Regions from separate parts of the Homo sapiens genome. Here all the other regions are linked to region 3. The links come from fine-mapping of genetic effects on gene expression. A gene starts in region 3. Each other region holds a variant in brackets. All regions are shown on one strand. Distances are from middle to middle. Region 1 overlaps SLC36A1 (solute carrier family 36 member 1). Region 2 overlaps SLC36A1 (solute carrier family 36 member 1). Region 3 holds the start of SLC36A1 (solute carrier family 36 member 1). Region 4 overlaps LOC105378234 (a long non-coding RNA gene).

Region 1 (2,686 bases), 33 kb after region 3:
GTTTCAGAAAATTTCTATTGATTAACCTAGGTATTTGATTGATCACTTGTGTTTTATTCTTCTTCTCTCAACCCCATTCCCAGGAGTGTAAGTTAAAAGACAGGATACCCTTCTGTTTGCTGTGGTTGAAAACTGGTGACATTTAGAAAATAAAAGTAAATTTTTTTTGTAGCTTCTGTGAGTTGGTAGACTAGAGAACCCCTGAGCAAATCGGTTGATAATAGCTAATTTAAGTTTCTAAGAGATTTGCAATTGTTTTCCAAATTCAAATGCTTAAAAGCATAGATTCCTCTTTTTGGCTCTATTTGGCTTTTTTTTCTCTTTTTAGGTTTTATTATTTTTGAACAAGAACCTCTTTGCTTATTATGTTGAGACTTCCCTGAGAATTTTCTTAAATTATTCAGTCTGAGCCTCTGTCTTTGGGATAAAGATAGATCCATATGACTTTTTAAATTCTAATTAGGGTTGAATGTTTTAAGGATGAAAGATGGGAAAGTTGTCTAGCATTTGCTCTTAGTCACTCCTTCAGGCCCTCTCCTAGACCAGCCTATATAGAAACAGCCCACGCAGCAGCTAATCCAGGGGCCAGGGCTGTTGAAAGCCAGCTGCTGTTCCCACAGCGACTGAAAAAGAAGGAACATGATGTATCCTGCTTTTCTAATAGATTGCCTTAATGTGTGCTGCTAAGATGGGATGCTTGGACTGTAAATTTTAATCCTATCTTGTGCCAGTAACTCTCCATGCTTTGATTCCAAAGTGTATGTTTCCACCGTGGATGGAGTAGCTCTAAGTGCTTGAGGAGACAGCTTTCACGTGTATGGTATTTATAATGTAAACTCTGAGGGCCCAATTCTTAAATCTAAAGGGCACTGGAAGAAAGAGTGTGGTTAGTTCAAATAATTTGCTTTTATCCAAAGTGCTCCCTCCGGAAAAAGTAGGTCTCTGTAGGTAAAATGTGCCTTCCTGACTAAACAGCTCCTCCACCCTGCCTATTGAGCTGGGGCAGTGACAGGAGCCTGACTCCTCTCCCTGCCCAATTTTCCCCTCCAGCCTGGCTCAGCCTCCCTGTAGCATATGTCACACTTCCTGCCAGGTTTATTTCTGCAGCACCCTGCAGGAGACAGCAGTCTCTGATTCACAGACCTCATGTTATCCTTAGATGCCTCTTGGATTTTGCTTCACTTTTCCTGGCCCTGTCTGTGAGTCTCATCTCCCTTCAACAGGACGATGCTCAGAAGACACGGCTGCTTTTGGTCTTCAAGTGTGTGCAGTTGTTTTTCCCTTCTGTGATCTGTTGTGACTTAGCATTGCATTGTCATCCTGTTCAAAAAGGCAGCCCCCTTTATGTCTGAGAGCACTCGCCTCTCTCACCTTCCTTGGAGACTTTGAAGTAATTGTGGGACTCAGTAGAGGCCTTTCATGGCAGCAGCAACTTAAATGTATTTATGCGCGTTCATTTTGTTCTTGCTTCTCTGTTCTTTCAGATCTTTCAGCACCGTTG[G/A]TTAGTATGTGATTTTAGATCTTTAATTGATTTTTTTCATTTATATTCATAAATTTTAACAGCAGCTTCTTTTATTACTATTTCTGGTGTTTTCCTATCTTTTCCCCAACTTTTCCTCCTCCTCTTCACCCTCCAAAGGGAACAGGAGGAATTCAGTGTAGTTTCTTTTTTTTTTTCCCTCTTGGAATTCAACTTTCTCACCACTCTCCCCCATCCTCCAAAGATTACTATGGCTGATACGGACTTTGTGATGCTTAATTTCAAACAGTTGGAGAAGAGGGGGAGGGAAAACAAGTATTTCATAGGATAGTGCTCATTTTGTTATGATTTCATATCGGACAGTATCTACTTCCAGCCCATATTTTTGGAAATGCGGACTTAGCAGGTCACCTTATGTCCAGACCTTGTGTGGAAGAGGCTGGCCCCACCTGTGGAGTCTGGAGTTGTAGGATCAACGGTTTTTTAGATTTCTTTGGAGCAATAACCCATCCATCCTTCAGTGATTCATACTGATTCTCTGTGTCATTTGCCATGTGAAACATTTTACTTCAGTTTGCTATGAAAATTTCAGAAACCTATTTCTGAAGATATAATTACCTAAAATCGCATCATCCAAGAAGCCTGTTCAGACTGGAATGCAGAGCTGCAAAACATTCCAAGCAGTCGGATTTTTAGAGGATGAAGCTTCCAGGTCCAAACAGAGTAGCTTCTTAGTACCTTTGGGCCTTTCACACTTTTTAGTCTTGCAGCTACAGTGAAGAAGAGCAGCATCATTAATTAGCTGTGTAACCCTGCCACCCCCCACCCTGCATTCCCCGCCCAGGAACCCTCATAAGGCCTCAGGGTCCTCAACTGTAAGATAGGAAGGGTGTCTGACCTCTAAGGTTTCTCTCAACTCCAAAATTCTGTGATTCTGTATAGGTGCTTTGCGCTTGATTTTAAGTTTCTACACAAATATTACTCTAAAAAAAGAAAGTCAATGTAAAAACATTTGGGAATAAAAGAAGAAATTCCAGTATTCCACCAATTTAACAAAGTAATTTTTTTTTGCATTGTATCTTCTGTGTCTTAATCCTCATGGGTGCCTTGTAAAAATAGTTGCAATTGTAGTTTACACATAATTTTGTCTTTCACATTTTATTTAGTTTTATATCACAAATATTCATATCTTTCACTAATATTTTC
Region 2 (2,686 bases), 26 kb after region 3:
CTCGAGGTCTGATGTTCAAGGGCAGGAAGTATCCAGCACGGGAGAAAGATGTAGCCTGGGAGGCTAAGCCAGTCTAGCCTTTTCACATTCTTCTGCCTGCTTTTTAATCTGGCCACTGGCCGAGCTGGCAGCTGATTAGATTGTGCCCATCCAGATTAAGGGTGGGTCTGCCTTTCCCAGTCCACTGACTCAAATGTGGCAACACCCTCACAAACACACGCAGGAACAATACTTTGCCTCCTTCAGTGCAATCAAGTTGACACTCAGTATTAACCATCACAACCTCCTTCCTTATACAACCTTAACATTGTACCTGCAGTTAACAGTTGCCCTTTTTCTGGCCCATTTTTTAAAGCATTCTTTTTGCTCCTCCTCCCCACATGTTCCAGCACTCCTGTTGTGTGCTTCTTGGTAATACTTTGAAAGTGCTCAAGTTCATTGATGAGAATTTTAAAAAGGAGAAGAAAAGAAGAGGAAAAAGGAAGAGAACCAATATAAAAATGTACCACTTTCTCTTCCCTTCCAGCTTTATCTTTGATGTTTATGTAGTTGTATCAGAGTGAATATATAAATTAAAATTAAAATTTTTTCTCACTAATATTTCGTAAGTAGTTTTTCATGTTCTACTTAGTTATCTCAATTTTTACTTTTTAATAGTGCATACTGGCCAGGCGCAGTGGCCAACGCCTGTGATCCCAGCACCTTGGGAGGCCGAGGCAGGCAGATCACTTGAAATCAAGAGTTCACAAACAGCTTGGCCAACATGGTGAAGCCCTGTCTCTACCAAAAATATACAAAAAATAGCCGAGTGTGGTGGCACGCACCTGTAGTCCTAGCCACTCAGGAGGCTGAGGCACGAAGAATTGCTTGAACCCAGGAGGCAGAGGGAGGTTGCAGTGAGCCGAGATCTCGCCACTGCACGCCAGCCTGGGTGACAGAAGGAGACTCTGTCTCTAGATAGATAGATAGATAGATAGATAGATAGATAGATAGATAGATAGATAGAATATATATTCTGTGGTTTAGCTGGTATGTTGTTAATTACTTAACTGATCCCTTGTTTGGAAGCACTTATATTGTTTTCAGTTACTTTATTAAACAGCTTTGCTCAGTGTTTTTCATCTTTTGATTTTTTTTCTACTTGAATTCAGTTTCTGGGGATGGGATTACCTAGTGAAAGAATGTGACTCTTTTTATGCAAGCCCCAACATTTGAGTTTTTAATAGTACCTTGGGCTTGTCTTTCCCCCAAACAAGTGGGTTTTTCTTAGCCTGAAGAGAAAAACATACAAAGGTTAAATGTCCCTAAATCATCTGTCAGGTATTAGACTTTCTTCCTTTAGAGAATCTTGGATTTGTTAAAAGGTATGACCTCTCCGATTCAGAGTTCAAATCTTGAATTTCTGTATAGC[CTTTTGCTTTG/C]TTTTGCTTTGTTTTGCTTTCTGTCTTTCAGAGGATCCCAGACCCCAGCCACCTCCCCTTGGTGGCCCCTTGGAAGACCTACCCTCTCTTCTTTGGCACAGCGATTTTTTCATTTGAAGGCATTGGAATGGTAAGAGCTGCACTGTGATTTGGGCTAGTGTTCTCTGGTGCCCTTGGTGTTCTCCAGGTCTGTTTCAAGGAATGCTGAGGAAACATTGTTAGAAAGTATCTTCTGAGGCCAGGCATGGTGGCTCACGCCTGTAATCTCAGCACTTTGGGAGGCCTAGACTGGTGGATCACTTGAGGTCAGGAGTTCGAAACCAGCCTGGCCAACATGGTGAAACCCCATCTCTACTAAATATACAAAAATCAGCTAGGCATGGTGGCACACGCCTATAATCCCAGCCACTCGAGAGGCTGAGGCAGGAGAATTGCTTGAACTGGGGAGACGGAGGTTGCAGTGAGCCAAGATCACGCCACTGCACTCCAGCCTGGGTGACAGAGCGAGACTCTGTCTCAAAAAAAAAAAAAAAAAAAAGAAATTATCTTCTGTAACTCACTGGTCAGTTAGTGAATAGTGTTTCGGGGATTCCATTGAGATTTCCCAGCTTCAACTTTTCAAGACAAATTATATGTAATTTTAAAATGTTTACATTCAAGGCCCCTTCACTGCACACTCATCTCCTATGTGTGCAGTAAGGAATAGCATATGGCAATCAGGAAGGCAGGGTCTAGAGTCAGACTGACATGGGGGTAAGTCCTGGCTCTGCCATAGAGTAGCTGTGTGACCTTGAGCAAGGGCTTCATCTCTTTGAGCCTTCATTATTTGTTCCTGAAAAGTGAGCTTAATGATTCGTAGTTATTAGGATTAAATGAGATATGTGCAAAATGCTTTGCACAGACCCTGACACATGGTAAATGTTTAATAGATTTTTATTTTATTAATAATGTTATTTTATTATTGAATCAATAAATGCATGAATAATTTCTCTGCCCTACAACATTGGTTTGGTGTATTTTCTGCGTGCAAAAGAGCAGCCTTCACTCCTGGCTCAGCATTCTGTGATTTCACCAAATGCTTTTCCTAAAAAGGAATCTACCCCTCACTTTTACCTAATTTGAATTTTATTTGTATTTTTCATAATAATGGTACAAAACTCTTCTCTGAAGAAAGTTATTCCTGGCCAAGGGCGCCACAAATGGGAAGAGCCTCCTCCCGGCACGGCACTTCTTTCTCTTTTTTGATTTCCGAGACACCTTATTTG
Region 3 (2,686 bases):
AGAGCGCAACTTTGTCTCAAAGAAAAAAAAAAGCGTGTTGTTTAATTTCCACATATTTGTGAATTTTCCAAGATTCCTCCTGTCATTGATTTCTAGCTTCATATTATTATGGTCTGAAAGAATATTAATATGATTTCAATCTTCTTAAATTTAAGGCTTGTTTTTTGGACTAGCATATGGTCTATTCTAGAGAATGTTTCAAGTGTGTTAGAGAAAAAATGTGTATTCTGTTTCTGTTGAATGGAAAGTTCTGTATATATCTGTTAGGTTCATTTGGTTTAAAGTGCAATTCAAGTTCATTATTTCCTTATTTTCTCTCTAGTTGCTCTATCCATTGTTGAAAGTGGGATATTGACCCTCCTACTATTGTGTTGCTATCTATTTCTCCCTTCATGGCCATTAATATTAGTTGTATGTATTTAGGTGCTCCAATTTTGCATGCATATATATTTACAGTTGTGTCTTCTTGATGAATTGACCCCTTTATTATTAAACAATGATCTTCTCTGTCTCTTGTGACAGTTTTTGACTTGAAGCCTATTTGTTACATAATTGTTAAAGGAAAAGTCTGTAACAAGGAGGTAAAAGGAGAAGCCTAGATAATACAATACTGAAATGTTGCCATCCATTTAAAAATGTTACTTTAAAAATTTGAATGTATTAAAAGATAATGTTGCCCTACCCCACAGTTCCATTTCCAGTAGCAACCACAGATGATAGTTTGTGTATGCTTCTGAAAAATTGGAAGTTTTAAAAATATGCATATTTCTTATTATAAAAGCAATACAAACTCATCGAGATGTGTAAAAGAAAATACAGCCAGTGTAAAAATTAGCAATATTTCACAAACCCACAACTCAAGGGACAGTGCTCTTCGACTGGACTCTGCCCCATGCCCAAGATCAATGCCCTGTTCAGTTCCTATTCGCAGTCCCCAGCGCCCAGGAACATAGTCCTTCCAGCAGTGGCAGTAATAGGTCGCCAGGTGGTGCTGTGGAGCAGAGCTCCGGAGCTCAGTGAGAAAAAAGGCGCGGCCGCTCAAGGGAGCACGTGACCTCGGCCTCTGGCGTGGGCGGTGGGATCACGTGATGAGGTCCGGAAGCGGCTGCCGGGCAGCAAAGGAGGATGGCGAGGGGCTGATACTGAACCCGGGAAGGGTGGGCTGTGCTGAAGCCAGAGCCGGAGCCGGAGCTGGGGCCAGAACCCGAGCAGTGAGTTCCTCCACTGGCTGCCGGCTGGCGGCGCTCGCCGCCTTGGGCAGGACCCACCTCGCCTTCCTCCCGGCGTGGCAGATGCTCCAGGTCAGGCACTGGATCCGCCCGGGCTGTGGGTCCGCGACTCCTTGGCGTCCCCGGGCCGCAGCTGCGGTACGACGCTGACACCCCTCTGTGAATTGGGCGAAGCGTGGAGATCCCTTGTCCCTCGCGCTATCTCCCTTGACCTCGTGGGGTTGGGATCTCACCGTCCTGTTTGACTGACAGGTGGGGGAAACTGGGGTAGATGGTGAAGATAACCCAAAGGACCATCTAGGGCGTCTTTCACGCTTCGCACAGGTCTCCCCGTTTCCAGCAAATGTCTTGCCCGCTGCGGGAGCGCTGCTTGAGACAGGCTCATAATGGGTCTTTGGGTCAGAACTGCAAGGACGCTGGGAAGTCGTCTGGTGCAGCTCCCTCCTAGGACAGTTGGAGAAACTGAGCCCTTACTCCGGGAAGGGGTAAGGGCTTGCCTAAGGTCATCCAGTGAGTTAATCGGAGACCCGGAGACCTGCGACTAGAATGCAAATGTTCCTAAGCTTCAGCAGCTGTTTGCTTTTCGCCACACCGCCTCCTGCGGGAAACTTCACCTGTGAAAAGGCACTCCTTTCTGTCCCTTTCTCTTTTAGTCCTCTCCCTTTTTAGCTGTCTGCATTTTCCACCGCTGGGGTTGGATTTGCTCTGGGTGTGGTTCCCTGTTTGTTCATTATTTTTCTGCAAACTCATCCTTCTGTAGGTTTGGTTTCTAACCTTCCTGCATTCTATGTAAGTCACACCAAAATATGAAATATGAATCGGAATGTGCTTCTGGGAAGATAGGTGGCTGAGCCGAGGTTGTGGAGAGCCCTGACGTTAACTTGAAGAATGTAAAGACCTTTGCTTTATTTTTTCTGTAACTTGTCAGATTTGGGATTGCTTATTTGGATGGACGTTTTGCAGTTATTTGAATTTTGCTGAAGATAGCATCATGGTGCAATGGACAGAACAGAGATTGGGGAATCAGGATATTTTGTCCTAGCTCTGCCGCTTACCTGGCAACCTTAAGTGACTCGCGTTTGGGTTTCTCAGTCTAGACAGTGATGGAATTGAATTCTTAAGGGCCCCTTCTGCTGTGATCTGGATGTTGTGCATCTTTCTAGGCTTGTTTTTTTGTTTGTTTGTTTTTAAATAGAGATGAGGTCTCACTATGCTGCCCAGGCTGATCTCAAACTCCTGGGCTCAAGTGATCCTCCCACCTTGGCCTCCCAAAGTATTGCGATTACAGGGGTGTGAGCCAGTGCCCCTGACCAGGGTCTGTTTGTTTTTTTATTCCGAGAGATTTTACCCGCTGTGTACACTGAGTATCAGCCTTGCAACAAGACTTAATCTAATTGTGTAGGAAGCAGTTTCCTCTGCTTATTCCTCTGTTGCTATAAAATCCTCCTCCTCTTTCT
Region 4 (2,686 bases), 91 kb before region 3:
GAAGTGAATTTGGTAATATCTATAAAAATTTGAAAAAGTGCATTCCTTTTAACTCTGCAATTTAATTTCTAATAATCTCTTCTAGAAATGCTCACACACGTATACCCCAGGGTGTTTACTGCAGCATTATCTGTAATAGCAAAAAATGGAGACAACCTGCATGTACCACAGGAGGATAATTGTTCATAAATTATCCTAATTCTATTGAGTGGAATATTGCCATGGCTGTTAAAAAGACTCAAGCATATCTGTATATACTGACGTGGAGGGAGATTTAGGATATATTACTGTGAAATATGAAATGTTCATCACACTAAGTACAACATGAACCCATTTTTCAAAAAACAAATGGAATCAATTTATTTTTGAGAAAAGCATAAAACCGCATACATCTCCAACTGCAAGAACCCAAACATAGAAAATACACATGCATACACATCTTGTATACACATGGTTGTATATGCTTGAGAAAGATCTGGAAGGATTCACAGTAGTTCCTCCTGCAGTGTGAGAATATAAGTGGACACTTAGGGGTGAAGCAGATGTGGGAATTTTGTATTTTAATTCCAATGTTTTTGATTTTAAAGGCATATTTAAAAATTAATATTAATGTGCTATTTTGTAACAAAATTAAAATTTTACAAAGGATATGTTAAGAATACAGGAGGATCCCAGAACTTTGGGAGGCTGAGGTGGGTGGATCACCTGAGGTCAGGTGTTCAAGCCCAGTCTGGTCAACATGGAGAAACCCCATCTCCACTAAAAATACAAAAACTGGCTGGGCATGGTGGCTCACACCTGTAATCCCAGCTAACTGGGAGGCTGAGGCAGGAGAATCGCTTGAACCTGGGAGGTAGGGTTGCAGTGAGCTGAGATCACGCCACTGCACTCCAGCCTAGGCAACAGAGCAAGGCTCTGTCTCACAAAAAAAAAAAAAAAAAAAAAGAATACACGAAGACCTGATAAAGTGCTAGAAGAAAAGTGCTACGAGAGAGAGATGAGGCGTATATCTGTTACTCACACCTCCTCCGAGCTGGAGCCAGCAAACTCTAGGAGGAGAGGGGCTGTCATCTTTGTGTTCCCTTTCATCCTTAGGAACTACGTGTGTTGGGCATATAGTAGGTCTCTGGTGGCTGAATCTTCTCCCTGAAATGCCCTTCAGGCACTGGCTCTCCTCCTGAATTTTTGCAAGAGGAAATTCAACATTGAAGTCCAGTTTCAAGTACCCCCCTCTCATCCACTTACTCAAAGACAAGGAAGCAGTTCAAAAAATCCCTCCACATTAAAGTTTACCTCTGGGCATTCAGTTGTGGTCAGCCCCTCTTCTAGGCCATAGTTCTCTGCCATAAATTCAGTGAAGAACATGCTACACAACTGGGGGCAATTTTCTCTCTCAAATTTAACTTCAGACCTAACATTTCCCTTCAACCTGCTCATGATTTCCTGTGCAATTCCTTATTGTGGATCAATAAGGAAGAAAAAAATAGGAAGCTAGATAGGGTCAAGGGAATGAAGCCAGGTAGCTGATGATAATATTCACACAAGCAGGGTGCTCCCATAGGTAGAGGACTATGCAGGTCCCCAAGCACTTGACCCATCCAGAATCTCCTTGATGTTAGCAAATCTAA[G/A]AGGAAGAAGGGTAGGAATTATAGTCCCCATGTTACAGATAAGGAACTCGAAGTTCATCGGTTTAGTGATGCCCATGTGTAGTGGTAGACAACTGGAAAATCTTCATTTCCTAGATTTCTGACCCCCATTCACAAAGCCACAAAAGGCCTTTCCCTGGATCACAGCCGGAACCTCACTTAAGCCACAGGCCCACATAGCTAAGGGCTTTAGCGGTGGTTGTGTGATAATAGGTGGTAGGTAGTGAGAGAAAGGTGGTTGGCTGCCAGTATCAGCATGACAAAACCCATCATTGTTCTTGGCACTAAAAGGAGCACTAGCCAGTTTGGGTGGTTCTTCTGTCAAGGGAGAGATGGAGCTTCCATTGCTGTTTTTGGAGAGTAGGAGATTTTGTGGACTTTTACTTCCTTACAAGCTGAATGATAGGCCTTTTGGGCCAAGTATTAATACTAATCTTATCTGATTTATCTCTTCTTTTGAAATAACCTAAAGCAGGGGTTAGTAAACTATGGCCTATTGGCCAAATCTATCCTGACACCTGTTTTTAGAAAAAAGGTTTTATTGGAACTCAGGATGCCCATTCATTTACGTATTGTTTAAATCTGCCTTCATGCTACATTGGCAGAGTTGAGTAGTTGTGACAGAAACCATACAGACCACGAAGGTTAAAATATTTACCATCTGGCTCTGTATAGAAAAAGCTTGCCAACCTCTGACTTAAGTCAACATATATTTTCTGAGCATGAACTCTGTGCCTTCTTGCTCTTTTACTTCCAGAAATCTGCTGGTATTCTCCACGATTAAAACCTAAATCTTGTGGCATCTGTTAAAAGAAAACCTATAGACAGATAAGATTTAACAGTGTTTAATTGAGCAAAGAATGATTCATGAATTAGGCAACCCCAAGACCAGAATAGGTTCAGAGAGCTCCAGGCTGCATTGTGGTCAGAGAACTTTTATGGACATAAAATGGAAGTGAAGGACAGAGAGAACTTGATTGGTTAAGGCTCAGCATTTGCCCTATTTGACCACGGTCTGCTCAGTTGGCTGCCTGTGATTG

What was found.
Region 1: its variant is fine-mapped to the expression of SLC36A1 in cerebellum (GTEx, PIP above 0.99). The same link has a PIP of 0.9 or more in left ventricle and skeletal muscle.
Region 2: its variant is fine-mapped to the expression of SLC36A1 in whole blood (TOPMed, PIP above 0.99). The same link has a PIP of 0.9 or more in Th17 cells and non-classical monocytes.
Region 4: its variant is fine-mapped to the expression of SLC36A1 in whole blood (INTERVAL, PIP above 0.99).

The regions. Positions count from the first base shown.
Region 1 is chr5:151,479,974-151,482,659 of GRCh38, forward strand. All of the region lies in intron 10 of SLC36A1 (solute carrier family 36 member 1), which reads left to right. Among named protein-coding and RNA genes, the nearest start is that of SLC36A1, 34 kb to the left of the region's middle. The variant G/A (reference allele first, on the strand shown) is at 1,502.
Region 2 is chr5:151,472,221-151,474,906 of GRCh38, forward strand. It overlaps SLC36A1 (solute carrier family 36 member 1), which reads left to right. Exons shown (of 11, transcript NM_078483.4): 8 at 1,453-1,551. Among named protein-coding and RNA genes, the nearest start is that of SLC36A1, 26 kb to the left of the region's middle. The variant CTTTTGCTTTG/C (reference allele first, on the strand shown) is at 1,412.
Region 3 is chr5:151,446,513-151,449,198 of GRCh38, forward strand. It overlaps SLC36A1 (solute carrier family 36 member 1), which reads left to right and starts at 1,091. Exons shown (of 11, transcript NM_078483.4): 1 at 1,091-1,301. RefSeq lists an enhancer at 1,071-1,120.
Region 4 is chr5:151,355,416-151,358,101 of GRCh38, forward strand. All of the region lies in intron 5 of LOC105378234 (a long non-coding RNA gene), which reads right to left. It also overlaps a transcript of SLC36A1 not described here. Among named protein-coding and RNA genes, the nearest start is that of SLC36A2, 9.2 kb to the left of the region's middle. The variant G/A (reference allele first, on the strand shown) is at 1,629.